Homo sapiens: one gene and its partner. The protein of the gene in region 1 interacts with the protein of each later gene in a pairwise test. Each region holds a gene or a part of one and is shown in the gene's direction. Other genes may lie near its edges.

Region 1 (2,693 bases):
TACCTACCTCCTAAAGCTGATGAAAAACGGAGGTAATATGTGTATAAAGATAGACATGACAGCCTTTCTCAACCAAGGCTCCATATCCGAAACACAGAAAATTATTACTATTATTTTACCTTTCCAATGGAGCTGAATACAGAAAATTATTTGAGTAACACTTTTCTCAATTCTCCTAAAGATGGTAGATAGAAGAAAATGTGTTACATACAGTAGATGAAGGAGGGCTTGTCTTGAGGAACCCAGACTGACAAAGGCTGCAACACACCGGCAGCATGCTGTAGATGCTGGCTGTTGCTGTTACTGTCTGTACTATCAGTGGGATTTTCTGGCTAGCCTTTCATTCACATTTTCAACTTTCTACCTATGAAGTTTTAGAAATCTAGTTGATTTGGCCCTGGACCTGTGACTCAGGAAAAGTCACCTGATTCTCAATCTTTCATCTGAAAATGGGACTGTTAACATTTGCTTAGCTGACTGCACCTGAGACAGCATGTAAATTCTGGTACTTTACAAGCTCAGAATGAGCGTGCAGCTGGAAGGGAAAGTTGTCATCATGGTGTTTAAGCAGGAGGAAAGGCAGTTAAAGAGAAGGTGATGGTGTTCATCTGTTGTCAGACTCCAAGCAGGTATCAGTGAGTTATCCTGAAGAGGGGAAGAGGAGGTAACTGTACACTCAGCATGTTAGTCCCAGGTTCTACTTTCCAGTCACATCTGCAACCTTTTAGTTTAGCAGCAGTTAAGAACTAGGTGCTTATTTATTTAAAATGTCTTCCTTTTCCTTCCAAACCTTAACTAGCACTTTTCGAAGAACTTCAGAGCTTGGATATTTTCTTGGCTGAACTCTACAAGTAAGTTTTCTAAAAATTTCTTTCCCAAAAACTTACTCAGGAATCACTTAGATATAAGAAATGTTCTTTCCAGGCCAGTAATCCCAGCTATTTGGGAGGCTGAGGCAGGAGAATCGTTTGAACCGGGGAAATGGAGGTTGCAGTGAGCTGAGATTGCACCATTGCACTCCAGCCTGGGCGACAAGAGTGAAACTCCGTCTCAAAAAAAAAAAAAGTTCTTTCCAGGCCAGGCGCAGTGGCTCATGCCTGTAATCCCAGCACTTTGGGAGGCCAAGGCAGGCGGGTTGCTTGAGGCCAGAAGTTTGAGACCAGCCTGACCAACATGGCAAACGAAACCCCATCTCTACCAGAAATACAAAAAGTAGCTGAGTGTGGTGGCACATGCCTGTAATCCCAGCTAATTAGGGTGGCTGAGGCAGGAGAATCGCTTGAAGCTGGGAGGCAGAGGTTGCAGTGAGCCGCGATCACACCCCTGCACTCCAGCCTGAGTGACAGAATGAGACTGTCTTAAAGAATAAAAAAAAGCTCTTCCCAGAGATTTTCACTGAGTTTTTCTTTTATCTTTAGGCATCTTGACAGCAGTAGCAATGAGCGTCCAGACATCAGTTCCATCCAGAGACGTATTAAGGTATCCAAATGGGATTTGGGAGAAAACTTGGGAAATAAGTTTAAATGCTTTTTTCACATTCCTGATTTATTATAGAGACTAGCATTCAACTACTGCTCAATAAATATTTGTTGAATGAGCCAAGAATCAATCTTGTTCTTTGTTTTAGAAAGTAACTCATGACATGGACATGTGCTATGGGATGATGGGAAGCCTGTTTCGCAGTGGCTCCCGGCAGACCCTTTTTGCCAGTCAAGTGATGCGTTATGCTGACCTCTATGCAGCATCTTTCATCAACCTGCTGTATTACCCTTTCAGCTACCTCTTCAGGGCTGCCCATGTCTTGGTGAGTTAAAGCTGTAATGGACAGCCAAGATGTACTCTAAGCCCAGGGTCAGCAACCACCTTTGTGAGATGGCACAGGAGATAGTTTGAACATTTCTTTCTGATGTACAGAGCCCAGGGGCAGGTTATATGGTTGCATAAGAAGGGGTCTTTGAGAAAGTAGAACCAACATTGGAAGTTAAGAGTGTAACTTTACTCTCTGAAGTCTACTCTATTAAAAGCTGTATGTGGGCCAGGCATGGTGGCTCATGCCTGTAACCCCAGAACTTTAGAGGCTGAGGTGGGAGGATTGATTGAGCCCAGGAAGTCGAGGCTGCAGTGGGCTGTGATTGCTCCACTGTACTCCAGCCTGGGTGACAGCGAGAGACCATCTCAAGAAAAAGAAAATGTGGTTTTTACATTCCTTTATTCTGATCTGTTTCAGGACTATCTTGTTTTTGCTGTAAAATAGAAAGTAAACTCCCCTCTCCATCTTTTCCAATTTCCAGCTGCAGTAGACAATATGGGCACCATTTTGAGGGGCAGGGAGAGAGGAAGACAGGCAACTATAAGTAGTTCTATGAAGATAAGTCTATATTGACTTGTCCTGTGGTCCATTATAGATGTAATTGCATGGCCACCTAACAGAGGAGAGGGGTTAGGATTTGGGGAGTAGCTACTTTGCTCTGCCTGCTTTCTGAGCCTCTAGCTTTTTTCTGTCTAGATGCCTCATGAATCAACGGTGGAGCACACACACGTAGATATCAATGAGATGGAGTCTCCTCTTGCCACCCGGAACCGCACATCAGTGGATTTCAAAGACACTGACTACAAGCGGCACCAGCTGACACGGTCAATTAGTGAGATTAAACCTCCCAACCTCTTCCCACTGGCCCCCCAGGAAATTACAC
Region 2 (3,826 bases), on another chromosome or scaffold:
GCTTTCCCACTACAACCATACAGCACCACTAAGAACATGTAGTCATACATTGATGGTAGAAAAAAAGTCTATAGTTTATTGTGAAAAATAATTCAAGCATCAGGTTTTTTTGTAAACTGCCAAAGGGCTCTGTTACACTGAACATCGATAGGGAGGCTATGTAAGGGAAAATGTGTAGTGTTAGTATGAAATGTATAAAAGTATACTTGTGTGTTTCATAAACACCTGTTTTCCTAGCTCTAACATACTCGAAACTGTCTATCAGTGTTCACAACCTCCCATACTTGAAACTAAATAGTTACTGAGTTCAAAGGAAACATAAGCTTATCTCAAAATTAAAGTACAAGTAATTGATAAAGGTATGTAAACCTGGAAGGGACTTTAGACAATGCCTACTAAGCCCCTCATTTTACAGATGAGGAATTGGAGGCTCAAAGATTGAGTGACCTGACCAAGGAAACATCGCTAATTTATTTGCAAATTGCCATTTAGGACAGCTCTTGAATGACATATTTAAACTGTTTTGTGTTAAAGAGATACATTTTTTAAAATATAAATTTTAAATTCTGCTCTTGAGAGTATACTATTAACTGATTTTCCTTTTTCTTTCCTCTCCTATTTCACCTTTTTTTTAAAGCCTCCTGTTCAGGTATACGGTATTGAAGGTCGCTATGCCACAGCTCTTTATTCTGCTGCATCAAAACAGAATAAGCTGGAGCAAGTAGAAAAGGAGTTGTTGAGAGTAGCAGTAAGTAGCTTTCCTATTCATTACATATGAAGTTCCTGTTTGTATATTTTTTCCTTTGGTTGTTTGTGCATTCCTAATGAGGTGTATCCTACAAGAAAAAACTGGGAAAAAGCCATTGTCTGTAAACACATTTTTAGTAATAATATTGGGTTTTTATTATAAGACATATAAAAAGAACAAACAGATACATATAAGGATATTAATATTAGGAACCAAGATTAGGGGCTAAGAAAAGGTAGAAATATAAGATTAAAATGGATGGTAATTTAGGAAAATTGCTATTTCAGAAGAGAATTTAAAAGCTACCTTTAAAAATCTATGCTTATAACTGGGCACAGTGCTCACGCCTGTAATCCCAGTACTTTGGGAGGCTGAGGCAGGCAGATCAGGAGGTCATGAGTTCAAGACCAGCCTAGCTGACATAGTGAAACCCCATCTCTACTAAAAAATACAAAAAATTAGCGGGACGTGGTAGTGAACACCTGTAATCCCAGCTACTCCGGAGGCTGAGGCAGAATTGCTTGAACCTGGGAAGCCGAGGTTGCAGTGAGCCGAGATCGCGCCATTGCACTCCAGCCCCGGACGGTACGAGACTCCGTCTCAAAAAAAAAAAAAAAAAAAAAAAACCTATGCTTATGGGCTAGGTGTTTAGAATATATTGTGATTTGGTTTTACTGAGAATTTGTTTTCATGAAACCTTTTCCTCAGGTTTTAATTGCCATATTCTATGCTTGTAGAATCAGAGGAGGCTCAGATATGTCTTACAGGTTGTTTTCATTTGGTAGAGATGCCTTTGCAATTGCCAGAACCCCAGAAGTAACCATGTAGACCTTTTCATTGTTTTGGTAAACCTCTTAATTATTTTGTTCCCAAAATGTGAGGGAAGAATAACAGGGTGGGGCGCGCTGGGCAGCAGAGTTAGTAAAGGGGCATGGGCTTCCCAGTAGTAGTAGAGGACTGACAGGCAAAGACTGTGAGGCTGCTGCAAGATGTTTTTTACTTTTTTTTTTAAACATGAAAAGCAGAATAAATAAACCGTATTACCAGAAGCCTACATTGTAACTGAATAGGAGAATGTCTGCTTTCGTTTTCACCGAATTTTCTAGTTAACAAGTTTCTACACATTCTGTTGCTTCCTTCGATTTTCTAGCGCCACCACTGGCAGTAAGGTCTGCATTAAAAAAGGTGAGGGAGACGCAGTCTGGTATATAGCCTCTTCAGAGGAAGTTTGGTTTTTTCTTCATTTTAAGATTCTTCATTCTTTAATTCACATATCTGCAAGTTTTTATTGTTTAGAAAAAACAATTCATAGGCCAGTTGTATAGAGTAATAATACTTACGTTCTATATTAATCATCGTATGTATAGTCTATAAGTATTACTGTTCTGTACTGTTTATGTTTTATTCATTTTTCACTTGAGCTTCTATTGGAACTTCCGTCTTAACAGGCAGAATAATTTTAGCTCCATATTCCTTCCTTGATCCATTTATCTCTGCAGATAATGCTTAAGGTCTTAGCTGGTGTGATAAACTCTTATGATTCTCTCAGAGCCCAGGAGCCCAGCCCTGTTGTTGGAGACATTTGGGGGAAGGGCATGCAGGAACAGACGGGGTCTCACACAGGCATTTTTGGAGGTGATGGTTATTGTCTGCTACTTGTCAGTTATGCCCATTTTAAACGGAAACAATCATGTTTACAATGGAGAGAATTACTTGGATTGTGGATATTAGAATAGAGTTTGTCTAAAGCCTGGAAGTCAGTCGAGACATGGAGAAAAAGGGAGGCAATTACCTTAAGACACTGAATATTAGCAGGGTTTTGGCACTAAGAGGGAAGGATGATACAAGGATACGCACTGTCCTCTGGATGATGCAGGAGACACAGATAAACATGAAAAACTAGGTAACCCAAATTCCAGAATGCTTTAAATCTGTATATTCCTGCATTTTTTATGGAAAAATGTCATTTCTGTGGGGTCACTCAAGTGGAAATGTTAGCATTGGATGATAGTATCTGACCAGTATCCTGGATCAGAGGCAGGATTCTGGCCAGGAGCCTGGGAGGAGGTGCTAGGAGCGTAATTGAAAAGCATAGAGAGGTGTGTTAACTGAAGGTGCTCAACTGGAAACTGCTGTTCGTTTGTTGGAACTCTGGAGCAACATGCTGGAAGCTGCACTTGGTCACTGAATTCAGACACTGTGATACAACAAAATGAGAAGAACGTTGTTTCCCATGATGGTTGTGCTCCTGTTTTATTGTCCACTCTGTCTCCCAGACTCTTTGGGGCCGCTCTGGCAGCACCAGAGGCCTCACAGAATCTGCTGGGTTCCCTGGACTCTGTAAGAGGCAGGGCCCCTCCAAGGGAGCGGTGCGGAGGCCTCTGTGGTCAGAGCACAGTTGTGAGGTCTGCACTCTAGAAATAGCACTGCTAGAAAACCAGACGACTCCTCTCTTAAATATATTAAAGTATGCAGTCTAATGAAGGTTTGGCTGTTTAGTGTTTTATAATCTTTCTTGAAAAGCAAAAACAAATTTAAGAAAGTTCGTACAGTATTTTTAAATTTTTTTGAGGAACATCATTCTATATAAAATCCTGGTGCAGTGCACAGTGTATTCTGAAAGGCAGTCAGAAAATTGTTTGATTATAATCTTTTTTTCATATGTTCTTCGGCAGTGCTAATTTAATTCATAAAATATTTAATTCATAAGAAAGTGTTTGTATGGCCGGGCACAGTGGCTCATGCCTGTAATCGCAGCACTTTGGGAGGCCGAGGTGGGTGGATCACTCGAGGTCAGGAGTTTAAGACCAGCCTGGTCAACATGGCGAAACCCCGTTTCTACTAAAAATACAAAAATTAGCGGGACATGGTGGTGCAGCTATTCGGGAGGCTGAGGCAGGATAATCGCTTGAACCCGGGATGTGGAGGTTGTGTGAGCCAAGATTGCGCCACTGCACTCCAGCCTGAGCGACGGAGCAAGACGTTGTCTCCAAAAAAGAAAGAAAGAAAGTGTGTGCATGGCACATCCTTCATTTGTGCTCTAAAAAATTTAAGAAATTATTTTTTGATGCTTTCAGC

The links.
Region 2: the proteins of NT5C2 (region 1) and ATP5PO interact in binary tests that used the Homo sapiens proteins (3 or more experiments, as listed by UniProt).

What each region holds. Positions count from the first base shown.
Region 1 is NC_000010.11:103,089,722-103,092,414, reverse strand, and holds part of NT5C2 (cytosolic purine 5'-nucleotidase), read left to right. Parts: intron 1-799; coding exon 800-851; intron 852-1,418; coding exon 1,419-1,479; intron 1,480-1,627; coding exon 1,628-1,804; intron 1,805-2,192; exon of another isoform or gene 2,193-2,506; coding exon 2,507-2,693. UniProt on the Homo sapiens protein: Broad specificity cytosolic 5'-nucleotidase that catalyzes the dephosphorylation of 6-hydroxypurine nucleoside 5'-monophosphates.
Region 2 is NC_000021.9:33,909,211-33,913,036, reverse strand, and holds part of ATP5PO (ATP synthase peripheral stalk subunit OSCP, mitochondrial precursor), read left to right. Parts: intron 1-637; coding exon 638-748; intron 749-3,825; coding exon 3,826-3,826. UniProt on the Homo sapiens protein: Subunit OSCP, of the mitochondrial membrane ATP synthase complex (F(1)F(0) ATP synthase or Complex V) that produces ATP from ADP in the presence of a proton gradient across the membrane which is generated by electron transport complexes of the respiratory chain.